Linked DNA regions of Homo sapiens: region 2 is linked to region 1. The links come from fine-mapping of genetic effects on gene expression. A gene starts in region 1. The other region holds a variant in brackets. All regions are shown on one strand. Distances are from middle to middle.

What was found. PIP is the estimated chance that this variant, and not a neighbour inherited with it, causes the effect.
Region 2: its variant is fine-mapped to the expression of AOX1 in fibroblasts (GTEx, PIP above 0.99).

What each region holds. Positions count from the first base shown.
Region 1 is chr2:200,583,819-200,589,200 of GRCh38, forward strand. It overlaps AOX1 (aldehyde oxidase 1), which reads left to right and starts at 2,196. Exons shown (of 35, transcript NM_001159.4): 1 at 2,196-2,335. The coding sequence starts at 2,291. It overlaps SGO2 (shugoshin 2), which reads left to right. Exons shown (of 9, transcript NM_152524.6): 9 at 1-278.
Region 2 is chr2:200,622,442-200,627,823 of GRCh38, forward strand. It overlaps AOX1 (aldehyde oxidase 1), which reads left to right. Exons shown (of 35, transcript NM_001159.4): 19 at 1,420-1,542; 20 at 4,912-5,008. Among named protein-coding and RNA genes, the nearest start is that of AOX1, 39 kb to the left of the region's middle. The variant A/C (reference allele first, on the strand shown) is at 2,301.

The DNA of each region.
Region 1 (5,382 bases):
GTTTTGCTGTCTGTTTTTAACCCATTCAATATATGTGGACATCCAAAAGGGTTTAAAAGCCACCTCCTGCCCTGGCCCGTTTTCTCTCCCTTCATTCTTCTGTTTTCAGAAATACATGTTGAATGTCAGCTTCTGTATTATTTCTATTATATGTAATCTGATGACTTAGAGGAGGAGATTAACCTTTCAGGCTCTTTTGAATTTGGTTTTTATAATTTGGTTTTAAAGATCACTTACTCTTCCAGTAATAAGTAGTAATAAATCCTGTTCATATCTGAGATCAATACACAGTTTATTGAATTCAAATGACTACTCAAACTCTATTCCACCTAGATGGAAAACTTTTTTAGACAATATCTGACCACTAACGCGGTGGGCCCAGAAATCTGCATCTTAATCAGATGCTTCAGGTGAGTCCGTCCGAGGATTGTCCTAGTACCACACTTTGAGAGACTGCAGTGGGGGTACAGAGTGCTGGAGGGGTTTAGTCAATAGCTCTAGTGAAGGATGGATAGTTTTATTCAAAGAATCCCAGTTGATGAATGAAGAAGAAATGCTAGAATTAGAAAAATTGCAAACCCCTATTAAAACTACCGCTCAGGCAATGCTCAACAATGGATGTAAAACAATTAGGTGAAATGTTGATGGAGAAATTCATTACAAAGGAATAGCCCTCTGAACCCACTGATCAATGTTAGCATCATTACGAATGAAACAACCAGACACCATATGCTTCCTGCTGTGCTGCAATATTAATTATATGGTACCACCTATGAAGTGTTCTTGCCCTCTCCCCCCCAAAAAATTGAACCTGAATTTAATCAAAGCTTTAGATCTAATATTTAGTGCATAGGAAATAAGTAGAGTAGAAAAACAATACCAGGGAGAAGCAATTAGCCACATTCAAAAAATGGTTCATTTCAATAGAACAACTGACCTGGTTTCTTTTTCAATGTGTTAATAGTGTTAAAAAGTCTGTTTTAGATCAAAAGAGACTGATGAGACCACATGCAAATACATTGCACAGCTCTTGTTTGATTCAAAGAAGTCAAGTGTAAAAGACATTTTTTAGACACGTGAAATGGTGTTGCGGCTGACTAAAAGGATGTGTATGTGTGTTTTTGAAGTATTTAGGGCTAAAATATGTCCAGGATTGGCTTTTAAATACTACAAAAAATGGAGTATGCCAAAACGTTGACCATTGTTAAAGCTCAGTGAAGGGCAGGTAGATGCCAATTGCACTCTTCACTTTTATGTGCAAAGTTTGGAAAATTTCACAATAAAATTTTTGTGTTTACATAAATGAAATAACATGGGAAAATGTTCTAAGGTATGGCAAGTGAAAAAAGCCTGGAAAATAACTAGTTTGTCCCACTTAAGTTTTTAAAGGTGTTAAAAGTACATGTTTCAAAAAGTAAGGATAGACTAAAAAAGTGAACGGTGGTAAGTTCTAAGTTGTGGGCTTACAGGTGTTCTTTATTTTTATGCTTTGCTGTATTTTCCAAGTTTTTTTTTTTAAGTTTTCCAAGATGTTTTACATCTCTGTTCTTATTTACCAGATAAACTTTGTGGTTAGTTACTGGATAAACTGTAAATAGTGATAAAATTTTTAAGTTTATATCAAGATAGCACTTCATTTTAAAACCAGTAATTATTAGGTTGGTGCAAAATTAATTGCAGTTGTTGCCATTGGAAGTGATGGTAAAAACCGCAATTACTTTTGCACCAACCTTATATTTCTAAAAGATCAAGTTGTAAACCTATTTGTTTTCCCTAAGATCCGCTCTTGCAGAGTTGGAATAAATATGATTGTTTACACTTAAGAGTCCAGGACTACAGCAGGCCTGGTTGGAGGGGAGTTACTAATGTTCCCAGACTTAAATCCAGCTGGAACACCACCTAAAATATGCAGTAACATAAGACCATCAAAAGCAATGTCCCAGGACTTACAATGTTTGCTAAGACGCAAGAGGGTGTGACACAGACGCTAAGCGCCACTGGCGAGGAGATGAAGGGGTCGTCTTCATCTTCGCCGGATGATTTCCGCCCACATAGAGGGCGCCAGTGACGCCCACACACGTGCTGGTGTCCCGGGAAGAGTTCCTGGCAAAGAGCTCAGGAACGTTGGATCTTAATCAAGGCTTTCTCCGTCGGGGTGGATGGGTTGGACTTTAGGCTCCAGCAAGCCCCGCCCCACTCGGCGGGTCGGTGCCGCCGGGTCCCAGGTGCCCGCTACTTCCCAGAACCTCCGCCTCCCGCTCCGGGCCCTCGAACCAGCGCGGACACCACAATGGACCGGGCGTCCGAGCTGCTCTTCTACGTGAACGGCCGCAAGGTGAGCGCCCGCGGGCTTCCTCTGCCCCCAGACCTGCGGCCAGGGCCGGGGCAGAGAGGAGCCCCTGCCGTTCGTCCCATCCTTTCGTGCCCGCCGTTTAAGGCACTCAGGCACGGACTGGCTTTCTCCCGTAACAGCGGCTTTGCCTTCGCATTCCCACCCCTGCCTCCGGGGCAGCTAAAGGCTGCGTTTTCAGGGACTGTCCTGGATCTTTGGGCCCCCACCTTCCTTATGTTCCCCTTTCCTCTCCTTCCAAGGCTCACAAGCTGATTTCCAACCACACGCCCTCCCTAAACAGTAAGATAAAAAGTATTCTTGCCCATCAGGGGTCAGCACTCCCAGATCTTCGTTCCCTCAATCCCAGCCGATAACGGGAACGTCCCCAGTACACTGAGAGCAGCCTACAGAAATGGCTGAGCCTCAGCTCGCGGGGTGCGTTTGGAAGCGCAGAGAGCAACTTAGATTCGGGACAAGACCGTAGAGACGAACACATTCAAACCACCCCCATCGTTTCTCAGATGAAGAAATCGTTACTTTCCAAAGTCACAGCTAGTTCCTGGCAGAGCTGAACCCAAGTCAGGCTCTGGGGGCTCCAAGGTCCTCACGGGTTCCACTGCTGGGTGCGGGCTCTGTCGCCTCAGAAGCTGGGCTCGCTCTGCGCAACCCGAGGGACAGTTCCAGGCAGTGTCCGATGTTTGGGAGAAGCAAAGCCCCCTGGGCATCCTTTAAAACACCCCCCTTAATGTGAGCATCAACTCTGCTCACTCTTAATGTTCCAGTTTCATTGACATTACTCTGAAGGAGGAAACTGAGGCAGGAAGGTTAAGGAGCTCCCTTGAGAGCTGTGGCTCACGCCTGTAATCTGCACTTTGGGAGACCGAGGCAGGAGGATTGCTTGAGCCCAGGAGTTCGAGTTTAGCCTGGGCAACATGGCGAAACCTTGTCTCTACAAAAAAAAAACCAAACAAAACAAAACAACAACAACAAAAAAAAACCGGTGTGGTGGTGCGTGCCTGCAGCCCAGCTACTGGGGAGGGTGAAGGAGGATTGCTTGAGTCTAGGAGTTCAAGGTTACAGTGAGCTGTGATCACACCACTGCACTCCAGCTTGGACAAAAGAGTGAGATCCTATTTCTTAAAAACAACAAAAACAGAGCTAACAACCAAGCAAGAGCAGTGGCACCTGATTTCCCTGGTGCTCGTGTTGGTGCCGGTTCATTCAGAGCCACCTGTGACCACTGCTTCTGGCTAAGGGCAGCCACAACACTTTTCCCGACGGGCACCAGCTGCCTCCCCTGGAAGCTAACCAGTGTGAAGCACCAGGCCCTAGTTGTGAGGCCTGTTCTAAGACCCTGAGCCTAATTTCATTTGTGGTTTTGTATTATGTTTCTTAAAGAGGATCCCCCAAATTGTACATTAGGCCCCTCAAAAACTTTGTCTGCCCCTGCTGCCTGGGTTCTACATTGGATAAGATGAGCTAGTTTTTCCTGATCTGTAAGGGTCATTAGGACCCCTTCACAGGACTGCTGTGAGGGTGAAATATGACAATGGGGTGAGATGATTGACATTATGTCATTTTTTTCTTCTTTTGCATAATAGAATGGTATAGTAAACACAACACTGGCTTTGTTGTTTAGACAAACAAGTCTTCAATTCCAATTCTAATTCTGATTGAGAAAACCTAACCTCTCAGAGGCCCAGTTTCTCTGTTAAAAGGGGATCATACCACTTACTTCATAAAGAGTGATCATGAGCATTCAATCCACTTATTTGTTAAGGGCCTACCGTATGCCAGTCAGTGTTCCAGGCTTATGAGATACAGCAGAGCACAGAAATAACAAGTCCTTGCGTGCATGGAGCTTACATTGTGCTGGGGAGATAGCAAGCATATAAATACGTGGAAATGTGTAATGTCAGGAAGTGAGAAGTGCTAATATAAAAAATAAAGCACAGCGTGGGGACAGAGAGTATGCAGGATACTTAGAGGGGATGGATGTTTTGGCCTGTCTGAAAGGGTGGCATTTGAGCAGTGACTGGGATGCAGTGAGGAGCAAGCCATGCAAACATCTGGGGAGACAGCATCCAGGCAGTGGGAATGGCAGGTGCAAAGGTCCTGAGGTAGGAGGATTTCTGTGTGCTTAAGGAGGTAGGTTGGTGGGCCTGGCAACATGGGCAGTGGCCTGATTACTAGGGCTTTATAGGTGATGGTAAGGGTTTGGGTTAAATGAAGAAACAGGGATTGTGAGTCTAACATCTCCTCGCTTCTCCTTCCCCCACTTCCAAACAAATATTGGTATTTTTAACATAATGGCCAACAAGTTTGTGCTCTATTGATTTTTAAAATTAGATAAGCTAGTTCTTATCTACGGACTCACTTTGTCTATGGGCCAAATGTCCTGTGGTTATTTGTAAAGTATAATCTGGAGATATTGATTCTGTTTTTGCAATTACCCATTAGAAGAAATTGTGTTAATCTTTCCCTTTCCTTCTCCTCCCTTCTAAATTCTGTTAGGTGTGTGCTTCGGTACTTAATAAACAAGCCTGATTACTTACATGGAAAGAACTAGAATAAGCTTTTTTTTTTTTTTTTTTTTTGAGATCGAGTCTCACTCTGTTGCCTCCTGAGTAGCTGGGACTATGAAACTGCAAGCACCCACCACCACGCTAATTTTTGTATTTTTAGTAGAGATGGGGTTTCACTATGTTGGCCAAGCTGGTCTCAAACTCCTGACCCCAGGTGATCTCCCTGACTCGGCCTCCCAAAGTGCTGGGATTACAGGCTTGAGCCACTGTGCCCAGCCTAGCATAAACTTTTTCGTTCCAGAGAGTAAGGGATTGTTGAGAAGAGTGTGAGAGAAAATCCACCCTAGAAGAGGGCTTTTGAAGTCAAACACAATCTCTGGAATTAAAAACTCACCTTTGAAAAAGAAGCTTAGAAGTGAAGCCACTTAGGAGAAAATAGGTGACATGATTGGCTTCTATTCTGCTTTTTGCTAAATTTTCTCAGGTCACCAAAAGTTGTCCTCAGGCAGAAGGTAACGACATCTG
Region 2 (5,382 bases), 39 kb after region 1:
GGGCTTCATAATTTGAAACAGTCCCTTCCTCTGGCTCTCCTTGGAAGATACTCCCTTGAAGATATTATCTGTAGAAATGAAAGCTTGATGACTGAGAGTTTGAACTCAAGGTTGAAACTCCCCCAAAGCAGGGCTGTGTAGCACTGGCAGAGACGGTGAGAATTTAAGCCCTTTGCATAAATGTTTACTAAACAAGTGAAACTGATCTTGGCTGCATGATAGTACCTGCTCTTTGAGGTGTGCTTATGAAGATCATAAGCATCTCAGGGGCCACATCTATGTGCCAGGTCACAGGAGCAAAATCAGGAGTCTTTGGAGTGCCATTGTGAATGATTGCCTTTGTTGGTTTAATGCTTTTTAAAACATTCATTTATGGCACTTAATGGCTTTTAAAAGTCTTTTCATTGTAGAAATTGTAAGCATACACAAAAATGGGAAAGTATTATACAATGAACCCCATAGATCCATCACCCAGCTTCAACAGTTATCAACACGTTACCATTCTTGTTTCATTTTTCTCTCCTTCACTGCCCCTACCCCAAACAAACACACTTTTTTTGTGTTCATGCTAGATTTTATGTTTTTAATGCCTTTTTTTCGATGATAAAACTACTTTATGTTCATTGTGGAAAAGACATAATAGTTCAAAGTCAATTTTTAAAATGAGTGATTACATTGAAATTGTGAATCACAGCATAAAGTAGGAGAGAGAACTCAGCAATGATGGTGACTTCTTCCAGTCCAGACTGTTTTTACCTTTCTCAAGTCTTAAGGTTTCTTTTCCCCATCTAAATTTCTGCTGTGGTCCCTGTGTGAACTCCTGAGCCTAGCTGCCCCACCTGCAGGCGAATAATCCTAGCTGTCAACCCCCCCAGGAAGGGGATGCTGTCTGCTTGGTCACGTCTTGGCTAGGACATCTTTTCATGAAAAGACAGTTTGTGAGGAGAGATGTGCTCACCATCAGGGTTCTGTTATCACAGGGGACTCCCCTTCCCAGGTCATCCCCTTTTTCTCTCTGGTTGAGATGATCTGTGACTTCCTGGTCCTCCCTGTCCGTGCAGGCAGAGGCTGCCTCTCTCAGAACAGCTCTGATTGTCGTGTGACAGCCAAACATCAAGCCATGGGACAGGCTGGCCCTCACACAGCCTCATAGGCTTGGCCTGGAGCCTGAGCCTGCTGTCCTCAAGACAGCATCACTCCTGCTCCTCTGATACAGCACAAGGATCTAAACTTCCCCCAGTGCCTCGGATCAGGAGGCCAGCTGTGGTTATAGTCATGGACAGATGTGGAGGGGTCACACCTGTGTGTATCTAGCCCTAGCCCTACTGTAATCGAGTACTAGGAGGGAGGAAGAAAATGAATAAAAGAGAGGACCTGATGCCTGCCCTCCTTGACAACAAAGGTCTTTCTGTGTCGTAGGTGTTCTGTGTGGGTCAGCTTGTCTGTGCTGTGCTTGCCGATTCTGAGGTTCAGGCAAAGCGAGCTGCTAAGCGAGTGAAGATTGTCTATCAAGACTTGGAGCCGCTGATACTAACAATTGAGGTAATGAGTTCTGTGGAATGGTGGTGCCAGTTGGGAGCCAGAACAAATATCAGTTAAAATGCTTTTGGCTACTGTAACAGGAAAATGTGGCTCAAAGTGGCCTCCAAAGCACACGGACTTTATTAACCTCTAACCAGTCTCAGTATTAACAATTTCCCCAAGGACATGGCTTCTTTTTGCCACTCTTCTCTGCTGCCCACAATACAAGCTCAATTCCTGTGGTCACACAGATGGCCGCCAGGACAACCTGGACTTCCTTGTTCATGTTCAAGGAGTAAGAGGAACCCTATTGCCCCAGCATTCTAAGCACAAATCCTGAGATCCAGCCTAATTAAGCCACTTAGGTCACATATCCATCTCCAAATTAATGACTGGCAGAGGAATGGAGGAGCTGTTGGTTACTTCTAGGGGTAGGAGTTGGGGTCAGGTTTCTCTGAAGTAAGTGGGCTATGTAGGGGAGTGTAGGAAACTGAAACAAATCTGAGCCCTGTTTGGAAAGGGAAAGGGGAGGGGATGCTAGATGGGAAACAGTGATGTCCAGGAAAGTGGATCCACTCTATGACTTTTTACCCACCTTCACCCAGGCACATGGTGAGGACCAACAGGATGTTCCATGAAGTGAGTGTCAGAGACACGATTTTTAGATTTTTCAAGAGATAAGTCGTATGATGCCTACAGGTATTTTGGCAACTTAAACTGGAGAATTGCATTTTCTATCCTGATTTTTAGAAAGGAGTTGAAAATTTATAAAGGCTATA[A/C]GACTCATCTCCATGAAATGATAGGATGTTCTCTTGTGTGCATTCCATTGGTTCTTATAATTTCCTGGATGATGAAAGAATGAACACTGGGGAGGCAGTGTAAATAGATGAGACTCAGTCCATACAGGCCGCATGTGCTCTGGGACACAATATTAGCTTCACAGCATAATGAACATGTTGTTCTCTGGGTGACCGGCATGGCCTGAGGCAGAATTGAGGAAACAACCTGGGCACGATCAGTGTCTCCAGGAGAACTGGGTGTTGGGGGTGCTTCTTGCCATGCTGCTTGATGCTTAGGAACATGGAGTTTGTCTCTGGGAATTTTTCTTACATTTTAAAATAAAAATAAAATCATGTCAAATAGACAAAAACGTAGAAGTCTAATTGGAGTCGAAGTGTGATTAGGCCTCCCAAATTTTCCTGGCCAGTTTCAAATTCAAACACTCTGTTCCCTTCTCAGGCCCTTTTCATTTACATGTTGCATGCTGCTCTTGCTTCATATATTCTGTCCCCTGAAGTTTGCTGGAGAGTTAGAATTACTTATTAGAAATTATTTACGTAACACTTCATCAATATTTTGTTTATAAATCTTTGCCCAATATCAGGGGCTAAATATCTACTCTCCACTCCCCCTACCTTCCAGCCAAATAAAAGCCCCAATAAGCAAATATAATAGATGCCACTCCCCCCACCCTCACCACTTCAACCAGCAGACTCGTGATTGTCTGCCAGAGAATCCCAGCATCAGATACAAGCTCTGGCTTTGTGGAAAAGAGTTGCCTCACATTGTGTTCAGAGATTAAGCTCTCAAAGTCTAAAGATCATCAACTGGATCAGAGCAAATTTAATCAAAGTTTAGAGCAGGGAAATATGCCCCTCTCCCTATACATTACAGTTCTTTTATCACTTTCCTGACTAAGAAAAATTCAGAAAATTGGCTCAAAGTTATTCAAAGAGCAAGCAGCCAGTGAAGTTGAAAAAGATGAAACTTTTAAAAATAGGATTTATAAAACCTAGCTTTTTTTTCAACCTGGAATCTCTTTAATCTTAGATTAATAAGAAAAGCACATGAACAGATTCCAATAGGAAGTGTGTTATCAATCAAAATAGAACAAAAACAAATATATCTCTGTCACTATCACAAAGATTTAATCTGGCACATGCTTTTCGAGTTTTTAGTAGATTGAATGGGGCAACGATCAAAACTCTTGAATCAAGGGGTAAGGCTGATGACCATAATGGAAAAAAATGTGTTCCCTACCGGAATCTGTCCTGAATAATAATCATCAACAACAACATGAGCATAGCTAGGACCTATACAGAGCTCACTGTGTGGTCAACATGGTTCTAGGTCAGTTTCACACATTAACTTACTAAATGCTCACCACAATCCTATGAGGCAAAAACTATTTTTATCCCCATTCTGATGGGGAAACTAAAAGGCAGGGTTACCCAAGGTTACATAGCTAGTCAGTAACAAAAACAATCAACAAACACTCTGTCAAAGAACCTGGGCCCCACCGGTGCTATAAACAAACCAACCCAGTTTTTGAATGGGGGAAATGGCAGAATCACAATAGCCCATCCCTCTAAGGGGTGTTGTCTAGACACCTACTGGTGGCCAGAAGGAAACAGAGATAAGAGAATCCCCAACTACCAACAGAATGGAATTTCATGGATGGACAATAACCCACAGTAGATAATGCCAGCAGGAGCTGGCACACCACATTTGCCAGTGGACACATGGATTACTGCAAGATAAATTCTCAGGGATAGCTAAAAACCAACCTATGTTATTGTAACTACATCTCTGGTTTTGTGCACCACTGTACCCTTTTACTGGGCACCCAGGGAGAGCCAATAGGAGCTAGTGTATAAATGGATTTGTACACCCAGCTCCCAGACAGGGCTTGTCTGAAATCTTACTTCCAGAGCTGGAGGTCCCAGGTGCTCTACTGCCCTGTGCAAATGAAATGCTCATCCCCACAAAGAAGGAATATGGGGCTGGCAGGCAGAGCCACCATGATCCCAATCACTAGAGTCTTTTCAACTAGCAATTATTGAGTGTTTACTATATGCAATATAAGCTCTTCACGTCTTATTTCATTTTATCTTCACCAACCACGATCCTATTGGAGCTATATGCACACCTGTTACTTCCATTTTACAGACAATGATAAGAGAGGTGAAGTGATAGGCCCACAGTCAAAGCTGGTAAGTGGGAAAAATGTGTGCACAATGCTGACTGGGTCTAGAGCCCAGGCTCTGAAGCCCTGTGCTGTATGGCCTTGGCTACATGAAATGGATTGTGGTGTGCAGACAATAACCTGCCTGGAAAATACTAGTTTCATTCTGGGATCACTTAGATGCCAGTTTTTTTCTGTGCATATTATTTCTTCAGACTCAGTAGGCACATTTACATTTCCTCACTGGGGAGTCTCTCTGCAGTTGGATTCTTAGCTTGGCTCACCAGGGTCATGGTGAAAGTGCACGGAACCACAAGGTGAAGGGAGAAACAACCCCTGCTCAGAGGATGTGCAGTGGGGTGTGTCTGCTGCCCTAGGGCAGGGTCTCTTGCCCAAGCTGCCTCATTCCTCTGTTCTCTTTCTAGGAAAGTATACAACACAACTCCTCCTTCAAGCCAGAAAGGAAACTGGAATATGGAAATGTTGACGAAGCATTTAAAGTGGTTGATCAAATTCTTGAAGGTAAAAAGTAATGGAAGAGTAAACAACCCTGGAAGTCTTCTAAGCATGTCAGTTTAAGGCTTCCTTTGTCTTCTGGAAATCATCGGGCAGCCTAGGGGGGTGTTGCTCCTCAGGAACAGGCAGAACAGGCACCTCATTCACAAATGTGTTTCCCTCCGTCTCTGGGGTAGGCCAAGAGCCAATGGGGAGGCAAAAGAGGAGGCAAGACCCTGCCCCTCTTCCCTGACCCCCCTTCCCTCATCAAGGCTCCAGTTGTTAGAGATGTCATTTTCTTTCCTGTTCACAACCACCCTGCAAGAGGGTATTATTATCTCAATCTTATAGGCTGGAAAATGGAGGCTCAGCGTAATTATGGAGTGTGACCAAGGTCACAC